Linked DNA regions of Homo sapiens. The protein of the gene in region 1 interacts with the protein of each later gene in a biochemical or structural test. Each region holds a gene or a part of one and is shown on either strand. Other genes may lie near its edges.

Region 1 (5,185 bases):
GCTAGTGAGCTAGAGCCAAGGTTTGAATTCAGGATCTAACAGTAGAAACCTTTACACTTGAAAACAATGTATTTTTAAGCAGAAAAACTTTTAATCAACTAAATGGTTAGGTAAACCCCAACATAAAAATACATAAATGTAGCATTTGATTAGTATTAAGTAGTGGTTGTTCATTAGGGGCTATTTTGTCTGTACGGGGACATTTGTCAATGTCTGGAGACATTTTTTATTGTCACAGCTGTAGGAGTGCTGATGGTCTCTCATGGGCGGAAGCCAGGATGCTGGTGGACGGTGTATAGGATGGAGAATAGCATGCACAATAATCTGGTCCAAACATCAGTTCCAAGGTTGAAAAACTATTATAAACTCTGTTAATAAGTTCATATTTATGACTTTTACTTTTTATTCAGTCCAAGAGGGCAACGAGGATTTTTAGATGAAAACAGGCATTAGAAGTCAAAGGTAGCAGGGAGCAGTCTTTAAAAACCTTAATATTCAGTTACGCTTTATTTTACTTGTATGTTAATGAGAAAATCTTGATTTGCAAAGATAAGTGATTACAAATGGCAAGTTTTTTAAATGGCTTCACCGTCTCAGGCCAACATTCAGTTTGTGGGCTCTACAAAACCTAGTTAAACCAGCAACACACATCAACCATATCTTGATGTTAGTACTAGCTTATTTGAGTGTGTTTTGTTTATTATAGTTTTTATTATTCTGAAAAAGATTTGAATCAAACATCTGCAGAATAGATCTTAAAATTTAAGTAGTATAAAACTACTGCTCCAGGACAGATGTCCTCTGGTAAGATGTATAAAGCTATAGAAAATAATTGCTAGGATCTCATGAGTGGGTAGAAATTCGAGTCTTTCACCTGTGCAAGGACTCAAATTTGGACTACTGCCATTCCAAACACTTGCATTTTCAGACAAGGTGAACACTTTCTTTAGCAAGCTGTAAAAGCAGCAATCATGTCTTCATTTCATACCACTCTCCCCACCCAGTATTTATAATTACTATTTTAAAACTGATCATAGTGTTATACAGTCATTTAAAAAAAATGTAAAATACAGAAAAACACAAAGGGAAGCAAATTATCAATAATCTTAACATCTTGCTAGGCTTTTTCCTGTACAAAAACTGTTTTTTTTTTTAATGGGACATGGTATATTAAATACTTCGTAATATGCTTTTTAACCCCATTTTCAGTGACTACATGATGTCATCATCAGTGGCTATGTGATAGTCCATCAAATAGATATGCAATAATTTATATTAAGTCAATAACAATATATGCAGTTGATCAGAATTCTAATGGACTTTCAGAATCTTCCCAGTTTTTCTCTCCTATAAACAATTTTATGAGTGACAGAGACAAATCTTTAGATGCATTTCTAAGGATAGATTCTTAAAAGTGGAATTGCTGGGTCCAGCATTAAGTACTATTCTCAAGTTTTGGATAGTTTCTGCCAAATTTTCCTCCAAGAAGTTTAAACTCTTCACCCACGAGCATCCTCTTAGTGTGAAATCCCATCACTCTTGGTTCTTCTCTGTCTGCAGGTGAAGGGAAGGCAGTGCCTTGTTTATATTTCTTTCCCACATCTGGATCTTTCACTGGTTTACTGAAAGATTTTCTGACATGAATCGAGGCTCTGGGTGCAAGGTTGAGAAACTGCTGTAGGCAAAGTGCTGTTGGTTTTGTCCAAATTTGGCTTAAAATCTTTCCCTTTGTTCCTCCAAGAAAGAACAGAGAGCCTGTTTACCGAGTTTTGGCAGAAATAGTAGGTATTAAAATGCTGCTTGCTAGACACATTCAGGACAGAGAGACAGACTGTAAATTGAAGTGTTAGTTTTTTAATTATACCATGGGGATAAAAAGTTTTTAATGTCATTAACAATAGCACACACCATTTCATTATATATGAGATAATATGGATTTGGTTTTAGCTCATAGACTGGTACCAGATGGCCTGGGTTCAAATATCCACTCTGCCATTTACTGGGTAGACTTGAGCAAGTTGCTAAACTTGCCTGTTCCTTAGTTTTCTCAGCAGTAAAATGGAGATAAGTAGAACCCATCTCTTAGAGTTACAGGAAAGAATAAATGAGTTAAGACATGTACAGCATGTGGAACATTTCTTGCCACATGGTAAGAGTTCAATTAGTGTTGGCTGTTAATACTGTTCCTTCCCCCACTACCCCCATCACTACCTTTCCATGGAGCAATGGATGAAGCACAGAAACATTTGGTCTTGGATTTGACCTTGACTTCTGTAGCTGAAATCATCTCTCCTTTGAAGTAACGGGTTGGATTAACGGGTGGTTTCTAAGATCCTTCTAGCTCAGGTTGGGTCTACTGTTTATGGTGAAATGAAGGGGACAGTGAAAAGGAAACCTTGGCAGTGACTACTGTTTACTAACTACTTCCTGCCCAGGGAGGACAGAGCTTAAGTGTGGGCCAGAGGAAACTAACCCTTTATCCCCCAATGTTTCGTTCTTTCTCCAGTGGTGTCAAAGTATGATTGCATCAGATTTTGCTGATGGCTAGTTGGCTGGCTAGATGATTGGTCCCTCAAAATTTTATTGTGTACTTTTTTCATTTTTTGGTCATTTATTAAATATTTATTGAGCACCTACAGTGATTGAACAAAACAGAGCCTTGAACAAAACAGAGAAAGTCACTCTTATGAAGATTACTTTCTAGTGGGGGAGCCAGAAAGTGAACATATTTCATAAATGTTATGAAAGGAGGTAAAAATGCAAGGACGAAGAGCAAAGCAGAGTAACCAGATAGAATGTGGCAGAAAGAGGACTACTTTTAGATGGAATGGTTAAAGACAGGGCCTCTCTGAGGAGACTGTACTGGACCCAGAGAACTGACTGAGTGAAGAAGGAATCCATATGCATATGTGAGAGAAGAACATTCAAGAACAAAGGACCAGTGAGTGCAAATACCTTGATATGGAACCAATGTGTGAGAGGGAGCAGGGAGAACAGTGAGAGGAGAAAGATGGCCAAGGGCTGTCTAAGCCAAGGCAAAAGCTTTGAATTTTTCCTAAGTGACATGGGATATGGGAAGCCATTGGAGTATTTCGAGCAGAGCAATATGACTGACTTCATTTTAAAAGACTCACGCTAGTGCTGTGTTGAGAAAAGGCTGTAGCGGGGAAGTATGAAGCAGGGAGACCAGTTAGCAGACTAGGCTGGTGACACTTAAGGTGGTAAGAAATGATCAGATTTGGGCACATTTTAAAAACCAACATCATGAGATTTGGTGACACAATGAACGTGGGATGTGAGAAAAATAGTCCACTATGATTTCAAGGGTTTTGGCTGAAGCCACTGGATTCGTGAAATTATCACTTGCTGAGATGGGAAAGAGTTTAGGGAAGGAGGAAATTTGGGGGAGAAATTGAGTATTTGATTTTAGACATAAATTTAGAGGCCTATCTCATATCCAAACGGTATGTTGAGGAGGCAGTTGAAAATGCAAGTCCAGAATTTAGGAGAGGGGATATACTTGTGAGACGAAAAAACCCTCAAATGTTAATGAAGTTTGCCTGTTGTTCTAAATAAGTAACATTTATTGATTCATTTTCTGATTGCCAAGTAGCTTACATGACTTTCTTCCAAATTCTGAAAAGTTGCCTGTAATCCAAACACCCTTGAATACTGCAGTTAACATTTTGGATGTATTTCCTTGCAGCCTTTTTTTTTTCTTCTCTCTTTCTTTCTGTGTATGTGTTTGTGTGTAAATGTGAGTTTGAGTGTGTTTTGACCAAGTTGAAATTATAACGCATTGTATATATTTTGTTTACAAGCTATCCTAGTATTTTTTTAAATGTATGAAATGTTATCAGAAAGCGTTTTCATAATGATTAGCAGTGTATTTCACGGAATGGATGAGGTTAACATATTAAACTAACTGGAGGAGGGGCTAATATAACTGTTGCCACATTGAATATATTCATACACATCTATATTTTTCTAAAAGTGGAATTACTGGGCCAAAAGTAAACTGTATAATTCTCTGAATTCTTTAAAAAAAAAAGAAAATCAGTTCACTATCCAAAAAAAGCAGGAATCAGTTCACTATCCAAAAAACGCAGGGTTCAGGCTCCTGAAAGCCTGCAAATAAAATTAAATATCTACCTGTGGTACATGGAAGACCTACTTTATGGTAGACCTACTTTATAATAGAATTTTTTTTCACTTGATGGCTGAGAAGAAATATTTCTAATTTTATTTGGTATTTCTTGCTCCTTTTTATTATCTTGGTATTTTGCAATGTAGATTTGTTCATGTTCATTGCCTATTTTTGATTTATCTTTTTTCTCTTTATATAAGATTAACTCACTGTTTAATATATGTTGAAAACATTCCCAGTTTTCTGATACTTTTTAAATTGTTTTAATATGGTAGTTTTAAAATTTTATGTAGTAAATTTATGTGTTCCCTATGTTTTCTTTTATGTTTAGAAATACCTTATACCAAGATTCAATTAAATAATTACCCTGAATTATTTATTTAGTAATTTTTAATATTTAATATATTATTACCCTAAATACAAAAATATTATTTTTGTATTTAGAACTTATTATGTGGAATGTATTTAAATATGTTATTTGAGTTGGAGAAATATTTTTTTCCAGTTGTAGTGGCAATATTTCTTTTTACTGATCCATTATTTCTCTTGTTGATCTGAGGTGCTACCTTTGTAATATATTGTTTGCTTATATATACTGGTGTTTAATTTTACTTTTTGCTTTTGTGAATGGGATTTTTTTCCCTATTATTTTTCCAGCCTGCTATTGCTGATACATAGATAAGCTAAAGATTGTCATTTTACACAGTTTTCTTTTTCGGATGATTCTCTTGGGCTTTTTGGGTAGAAAATTTTATGTTCCAAGATGATCATTTTTTCTTTCTAATAGTGTGTGGTTCTAATTGCATTGCCCTGAACTTCCAGCATGATGTTCAATGATAGTAGTGATAACAAATATCCTTGTCTTGTTCCTCATTTAATAGTGACCATCATGTTTTTTTGCTTTTCCTAGATCTCTCTACTTTAGTTAGAAGATGCCCCAATCTTGTCCATCTAGACTTAAGGTATTTTTTTATTTGTTTATTTTAGATCAAAAGTTGAAAAATCTTGATTTCTCATTAAATTGGGAAAGGATCATAA
Region 2 (3,500 bases), on another chromosome or scaffold:
GCTCTCAGCTGTCCCTTGTTTACCTTGGTCCTCATGAGCCTTTATGGGTGGGAAGGCGACATCAGGGATACTTTTTCTCCATGAATAATCAGCATGGGGCATCCTCAGGAGCGCGACAGCAGATGTAAAGCCCAGGATGCCAGACTTGTCCATAGTTACTAAAGTGGTGTATTTCTTTACATTTGCCATGTTGCAGATCATTTGTTTTGATAAGCATGACATGATGGCTTAATGACATTATGTTGTTTTGGGGCAACAATGAACTGGTCTAAACTATATTTTGGGTTTTTCGTTTGTTTCTTTGGGGAATGATTTTCTAATTATAGAGGAAGATTTAGCCTGAGAATAGGAAATGTTGTAGTACTGAGTGTATGTATGTCTATGTGTACATTCTTGTGAATGTGTGTTAGTTGGGATTCAACCTGATGGAGCATCCAAGATTGTTAGAAAAATATGCAGAAGCAAAGTACATGACCATGGTATTTTTTGTAGGCTGTTCTTTAGTAAATGCTCCCACTTGTTGCCATTGGATTTCTTCCTTCTAGTTACTTCCTTTTTCATTGTGGGACACCAGATTTCCAGCCTTCTTTTTTGCGGGGAGGGAGTGTGATGGACATAGATCATTTATTCAGTAAGCATCTTGTAATATGGTAAGGAAGTATGATATAATATACCATTTATATTGGCAGAGAACAGGTTTTCTTTTCAATTAAAAGTAATTCCTCACTAGTGTCTCGTCATAAAAATTCTGAAGTAGAATTACACCTAAGGCATGTGTCATTATGGGTTGCTCCCCTGGGAGGTTCTTCTTAAAAGACCCAAGGCAAAGAATTGAGTTTTACAATATGCAGTGTTATGTGAATGAATGTAGGGCATCCATTTTGATTATAGGCATTTATTAAGCATTTCTTTTGCAACTTAGTGGTACTTTAGTCAACTATACTTTTTTAAAAATGGTGCCTTTTGGCCAGGTGTGGTGGCTCATGCCTGTAATCCCAGCACTTTGGGAGGCCAAGGTGGGCAGATCACCTGAGGTCAGGAGTTCAAGACCAGCCTGGCCAATATGGTGAAACCCCGTCTCTACAAAAATACAAAAACTAGCCGGGCATGATGGTGGGAGCTGTAGGCATTATAGGATCCCAGCTACTCGGGAGGGTGAGGCAGGAGGATCGCTTGAACCCGGGAGGCAGAGATTGCATTGAGCCGAGATCGTGCCATTGCACTCCAGCCTGGGTGACAGAGTGAGACTCTATCTCAAAAAACAAACAAACAAACAAAAATAGTGCCTTTGTATAATTTACTTAACTCCAAATGCCATTTTGTTTTTAATTTCCTTATTAAAAGTCTTCACCTAAGGCCTTAATGGTTTTTCTTTGGAAGTATTATGGTGGCTCCAGGTAATCATCCAGATACTAATTCTGGATGTGGTGGAGGAGGCAGGCAGCACCCTCGAGCAGTGCTTCTCAGACTTCAGTGTGCAGGAGGCACCCGGGCGCTTGTTGAAATATGGGTTATGATTGGTGGGGTGGGGGTGGGGCCCAAGAGTTCACATTTCTATCCGAGGCTGCTGGTCCAGGGACCACACATTGAATTGCAAGCCCTAGGAAACTGATGCTTTTGTGGGTTGATTTTAGCTGTGTCTGGGATTTTTTGTTTTGTTTTTCAGAATCAGCATCATCAGTTTATGTTTTAATATTTTGTTGCCTGCTGTTCAAAAGTCAAGTTGAGAGTCAGGGGATACAAATCCTGCTTAGTCAAAAGTTTTTGTTAAATAGGAAATTTCCTTTAGTCACCCTCTGAATCTGCTACTCTCATTAACGTGAGTTCAAATCTAGCTGGGCGTGGCTGTGCGCACCTGTAGACCAGGCTATGCGGGAGGCTGAGGCAACAGGACTACTTGAGCCCAGGAGTCTGAGGCTGCAGTGAGCCATGATCACTGCATCCAGCCTGGGTGACAGAGTGAGACCCTGTCTAAATAAATAAGTAAAATCAAGTACAATGGTAAAAGTTAAAAAACAAAGAGGTAGCTCAGGATTCCTTTTGGTAATATCCCAAAAACAATATATATAAATAGCCCCACATAACACAAATAACAAAGTTTTAGGCCACACTTTTAAAGAAGAAAGCGAAATGCTAGTTTTTCTAAGCTCTGAGTTATGTGTATAGACCCGAGGGGATTTTTGATGAGTCTCAGCAAATCTCCTTCCTCCTCCCTTACAACATTTTGCTTATCCCCGTCTCTGCTTTTTCAAACCCTCTCTGCTATTATTTGCAGTTTTTTGGCCCTAGAAAAGATCAATTGAAGATTTTCTTTCTTTCCCTCTTGTGTCTATGTTGTTATTTTAGGAATAGAAGTCCCTGAGGGACTGTTCTCAACAGTTGCTTGGGTTGAAAAATACAAAATCAATTTCTTCATCCAAGTTTGACTCATTGATTTCTGTGAGCAAGTTATTTTGCTTTAGCATTGGCACTTAGCCTTATGAAAATACAGTACATGCAAGAAGGAAAGTTAGTGAGAAATACACAAGTACTAGTGATTCTTAGGAGAAGGTTATAGTACATAAAATATTATTCCAATGATTGGTTTCTCTTTTTTTTTTTTTTTTTTTTTTTAAGACAGAGTCTTGCTCTGTTGGCCGGGCTGGAGTGCAATGGTGTGCCCTCGGCTCACTGCAACCTCTGCCTCCCAGGTTCAAGTGATTCTGCTGCCTGAGCCTCCGGAGTATCTGGGATTATGCACCACCACACCCAGCTAATTTTTTGTATTTTTAGTAGAGACAAGGTTTCACCATGTTGGCCAGGCTGGTCTCGAAATCCTGACCTCAAGTGGTACACCCACCTCAGCCTCCCAAAGTGCTAGGATTACAGGCATGAACCACCGGCGCCTGGCCGGTTTCTCTTTTATAAATGGTCAGTTTTGGGGGAGAGTTTAAGTTTTTAGTGATTATAAAATGGCCATTTGCTCAGCCTGTCTGATCCTGACTACAATGATGACAGGAAACCATGTGGCACCATGACATTGAGCTGATCTTCAGGACGTGATGACAAGTATATTGTCTGTGCTAAAATGGATTTGGTAGATTGCATAACTTGAGCCATGAGGCCTGTCGTTCTGCATACTGATGGTTTTGGTAGGTTTGGAGATGAGTATATCTGTTAGCAATGGAAAATAATTCTTTTTTTATTTTTATTTTTTATTTTTATTTTTGAGACAGAGTATCGCCCTGTCGCCCAGGCTGGAGTAAAGTGGTGCGATCTCGGCTCACTGCAAGCTCCGCCTCCTGGGATCATGCCATTCTCCTGCCTCAGCCTCCCAAGTAGCTGGGAATACAGGCGCCCACCACCACGCCCGGCTAAATTTTTGTATTTTTAGTAGAGACAGGGTTTCACTGTGTTAGCCAGGATGGTCTCGATCTCCTGACCTCGTGATCTGCCCACCTTGGCCTCCCAAAGTGCTGGGATTACAGGTGTGAGCCACTGCACCCGGCCGGAAAATAATT
Region 3 (4,042 bases), on another chromosome or scaffold:
CAAGGCCTCCTCGGGGGCCAAGGCACCTCCCACTCCAAGCTTCCTTACTACTGCTCCTTTAGCTCCCCCCAACCTGAAGAGTCTCCCTCTGGCTTCTCTTCCCTATCACATCTCCCAGGAAAGATTAAAAAAAAAAAAAAAAAAAAAAAAAACCCTGCTACAGAGAGATTATATAACAGCAGCCAGAAAGACTATCATATCTCCCAGCCTATGAGAAGAACCAGGAGCCAAGGGGGCAGAGCCAGGATGCCCAGGCCCTCCAGCCCAGGGGCACCAAGCACAGAGTGGGGTGGACACGGACAGCACCTGCCACCCCTCCAAGTCCTCCACCAATCTTTCAGGCATTGAGTACAGCAGACAGAAGCTCTAGCCAATTCCCCATGCCCATCCCCCAACACAAGGATCATGAGGCTCTCTGGGTCCTGCTTCTTCCCTTGGACTGGGGCTTCCATGAACACGGACTGTATGTCTCCCTTCCCAGAATCCCTCCCTACTATGAAGTTGTGCCTAAAAGAGTGGAAAGACGAAAGCTCTGACACAGATTTGCTGTGTGATCTCAGGTAAAAAACTCAACCTTTTGGGTCCCTACAGGGGTGAGTAAAAGCTCCTCCCTTCCTCCCTTCCCCCCTCCCCCCCTTCCCCCCAGAGAGACCAGAGACCTCTCCCTTTACAAATGTACATGCACACACATACATATACACACATATGCAAACATACAGGGTGTGTTGGCGGGGGCAGGGGAGTTACAACAAAGAGAATATAATCACTGAGACCCAAAGGTCCAAATGCCTATGCTGGGGCAAGTGGGGAAGGAGCTCCATATAAGCTCCAGTGTCCCCCAATCACCCCGTATAAAGAGGTCCTCAGCCACTCCCACAATAGTCCTACCCCACCCCCATCTCCTGCCCAACACACTGGGAAACCACAGGAAGGAAATTCATTCCCAGGCAGGGCCGTGGGAGCTGGGACAGCCAGACTAAGTCCTGGGGCGGGTGTGACCCCGTGGCCACAAGCGGGTGGACATCTGTGAACACTGACATGTGCCTTTTCAATGCTCTCCTCAGCTACTGAGACCTTCCTGTTGGGGTTGGGAGAGGAGTGGGAGGTGGACAGCTCCCAAACGCCAAAACACCCAATCTCAGGCTGACCTGCGCTCCCCTCCTATCTCCAGGCCAGAGCAGCCCAAGGTCACCGCCCCAGACGGCAAACTTCCCATAGTCTAGGCTGGACCCTGAATTGCTGCGGAGACCCACTGAAGGGATAGGAGGAGGAGTGGATAAGGGCCACCTCCACCCCAAAGCAAAGAAACCAGGACTCTGAGGAAAACTCAAATGGGGGTTGGGCACAGCAAAGAGGGACACAGGATCCCCCCCAACCCGCTATACCCTCCCCCAACCCATCAACAATGCACCAAGCAATGGGAGGCAGAGGGAGGCTCCCATTCAGAAGGGCAAACCTGGGATAACCCGGTCGGTGGCTTCTAGAGTGCCTTCCTTTCAGGAGGAGTCCTCGGAAGGCTGCTGAGAGGACAGCGTGATTCACTAGGGGGAGGGGGCCCCTTTCCCCATCCCCCTAAGACCCGAACCTGGTAGGAGAGAAGCTGGCATTGGAGTGGGGGACTAAAAGCATTTTGGTCTCCTTGGCCCATCCTCCCAAAAGCCCCCCCAAACTCCCTAAACCCCCGCTCGCAGCCCAGCTCCGCCTGCCATAGGTGGAAAGGACTAGAGAACTCTTGCCCAGATGTTGAACAGCTGCAAACTTCTGGCCAGGGAGTTCTCCAGTTGGGGTTACTGACAAACCACATCAGGGGTCTCGGAAGCGGGGCTAGGAGGTCTCAAGGAAGGGTCCTGCGTGCCCACCTCGTGGCGACTCCGCGTCCCAACTCCACAGGCACCCGGCAAACACGGGCCCCGGAGACACACACACTCACACACCCCAACCCACTACCCCGGTGTCATCTGAACAACATCCCCCCTCCCTCCCCCGCTTCCCAAACAGCTGCGGCTCCCCCCGCCTCCACCCTCCCGCCGCCCTCCCAGGCCCCCTTCTGCACCATTTCGGGCCAAGGAGGAGGGAACAGGCGGCGAGAGGAGGGAGAGGGAGGGAGGGCCGGCTGTTAAAATGTCAGTCGCTCCCGACTGTCACCGGAGACCCCCTCGGAGGATGGCGCCCCGTCCCAGACCGCTCGGAGGCCGTCGTAAACCCCCTACACGAACAGGCGGGCGCGCCCCCAATCCGCCCGTCCCCACCCCGTACTCCCAACACCCAAGGGAATTGCAGCCCACTCCACTTGTCCCCCACGACAGACTCCCTGACACAAACAGTCCCCTAGGTAATCCCCGCCAACGCCACACGAAAACACGGCCCGCTTCGCGAGTTCCTCCCGGCCCGGGGGCTGCCCCATCCCACCCCTCAGGGGGACGGTCTAGACCACCCTCCACCCCAACCCCTGGACCGGGTGGGGGAGGGGGCCTCTTAAAGTGGCAGGCGCATTATTTTTCTCTACTCACCAGCCCGGCTGGGGGAACGGTGTTGTCACGGCAAAGAGCGGGTAGCCCTCGCCCCTGGTCCGGGGGATCTTCAACACCGGGAAGCCGCAGCTCCGGGCGGGGAGAATAATAAATGAGGCCGGCGTCCGCGCGGGCCCTGGGCGGCGCCGTGAGGCCTGGGCCCCCGTCGTGGGCGCGGGGGCCAGCAGGCGGGCGGCAGGCAAGCGGGGAACCGGGGCCGAGCGCCTGAGCCGCCTCGGCTGTTGTTGATATTTTGCTTCCTTCCTCCTTTCGGGCTCCAAAGGTAACTCCTCCAGCCCCCGGGAGTCGAGGCCGACGTAGGCACAGCTCAGCCTAGCTTGAGGGGTGGGGGGAAAGGGGTGACGGACAGGCGTGGGGGCCAATGGGAGGCACCTGTGGGGGTGGCGGGGCGGAGCCGGGGCTGGGGCGGTCCCGAGGACGCGGCCCCGCCCCTCGCTTCCCCAGGGCTGGCCGGGCCAGGCCGGGTCGGCCCCCACCCCACCGCCCTCCCAAGCTAGGCTGCGGCGCTGGGAGCGGCGGATCCCTCCGCCTGCCGGGAGGGAGGGAGGAAGGGACGAAGCGAGGCAAAGTAGGGAGGCGAGACCCAGAGGCCTTTAAAGGGATCGGTCCGCTCCCACGGTGCCCCTCGGAGCACGCCGGCCGCCCGCCCGCCCGCCTGGCGCTGCTGCCACCGCGTGCTCCAGGAGGTCCTTTCCGGGGAGGCCGTGCGAGCTGCACGCACACTCTCAACACGCGCCACCTCGGCACCTCCTCGCGGCCCCGGGCCCCAGGAGAGTTGGGAGGTGGGAGTCTAAGTAGATAAATTAAGGGGAGACTGGAAGTGGTGAAAAGCTCCCATCTCCCCCACTTGGTGTGTGACAAAGCCCCACTCACGGGCGACATTCTTGGGGTTGGGGGGTGTTACCTAGGGAGCTCAGTTGCTCCCTCTACCTGTGACAGGCCCCCTCCGGTCCCAGGGCCCGGCTCGGCAGACGCCCAGCAATTTAAAGCGACAGCTCATAGTTCTTGGGTGACCTAATCTCCAGTGCTTGCGGGGCCCCACAGCACTTACTGCCGAGGGGGCAATTTAAAGGGGCGGGACCCTAATTCCTCCCCACCTCCCGCCGCACAGTAAACACCCAGAAATGTCTTATTAAAGAAGCAGTAGTAGCTCTTTAAAATTTTTTATTTTTATATTCCTGGTTGCTCCAGGGTGTGGTGAATATTTACGTGCCCTACAACAGGAGTGTGGGTGCCATGCCTACTGGACAACTGACCCGTCAGGCTTCAGCATCCCTGTTACTTCCAAGTCCTGCTGCTTTCTCCCAAGAGCGTAAGGAAATGATGGCATCTGGCTTAGATCTCAAAGAACCTTGCAGAACAGAAGGGCACTCACTCAGTTCTTCACACACCCCGAATTTTTTTTTTTTTTTTTTTGAGACGGAGTCTTTCTTCGTCGCCCAGGCTGGAGTGCAGTGGCGCGATCTTGGCTCACTGCAACTTCCGCCTCCCAGGTTCAAGCGATTCTCCTG

What was found. Proteins that work in one complex are often made in the same cells at the same time.
Region 2: of the proteins of SKP2 (region 1) and CDC14B, one has a biochemical effect on the other in vitro, tested with the Homo sapiens proteins (one study listed by BioGRID).
Region 3: the proteins of SKP2 (region 1) and MEF2D form a complex in vitro, tested with the Homo sapiens proteins (one study listed by BioGRID).

The regions. Positions count from the first base shown.
Region 1 is NC_000005.10:36,171,908-36,177,092, forward strand, and holds part of SKP2 (S-phase kinase-associated protein 2), read left to right. Parts: intron 1-5,057; coding exon 5,058-5,109; intron 5,110-5,185. UniProt on the Homo sapiens protein: Substrate recognition component of a SCF (SKP1-CUL1-F-box protein) E3 ubiquitin-protein ligase complex which mediates the ubiquitination and subsequent proteasomal degradation of target proteins involved in cell cycle progression, signal transduction and transcription.
Region 2 is NC_000009.12:96,518,844-96,522,343, reverse strand, and holds part of CDC14B (dual specificity protein phosphatase CDC14B), read left to right. Parts: intron 1-3,500.
Region 3 is NC_000001.11:156,497,976-156,502,017, forward strand, and holds the start of MEF2D (myocyte-specific enhancer factor 2D), read right to left. Parts: upstream 2,801-4,042; 5' UTR 2,511-2,800; intron 1,906-2,510; exon of another isoform or gene 1,457-1,905; intron 126-1,456; exon of another isoform or gene 1-125. UniProt on the Homo sapiens protein: Transcriptional activator which binds specifically to the MEF2 element, 5'-YTA[AT](4)TAR-3', found in numerous muscle-specific, growth factor- and stress-induced genes.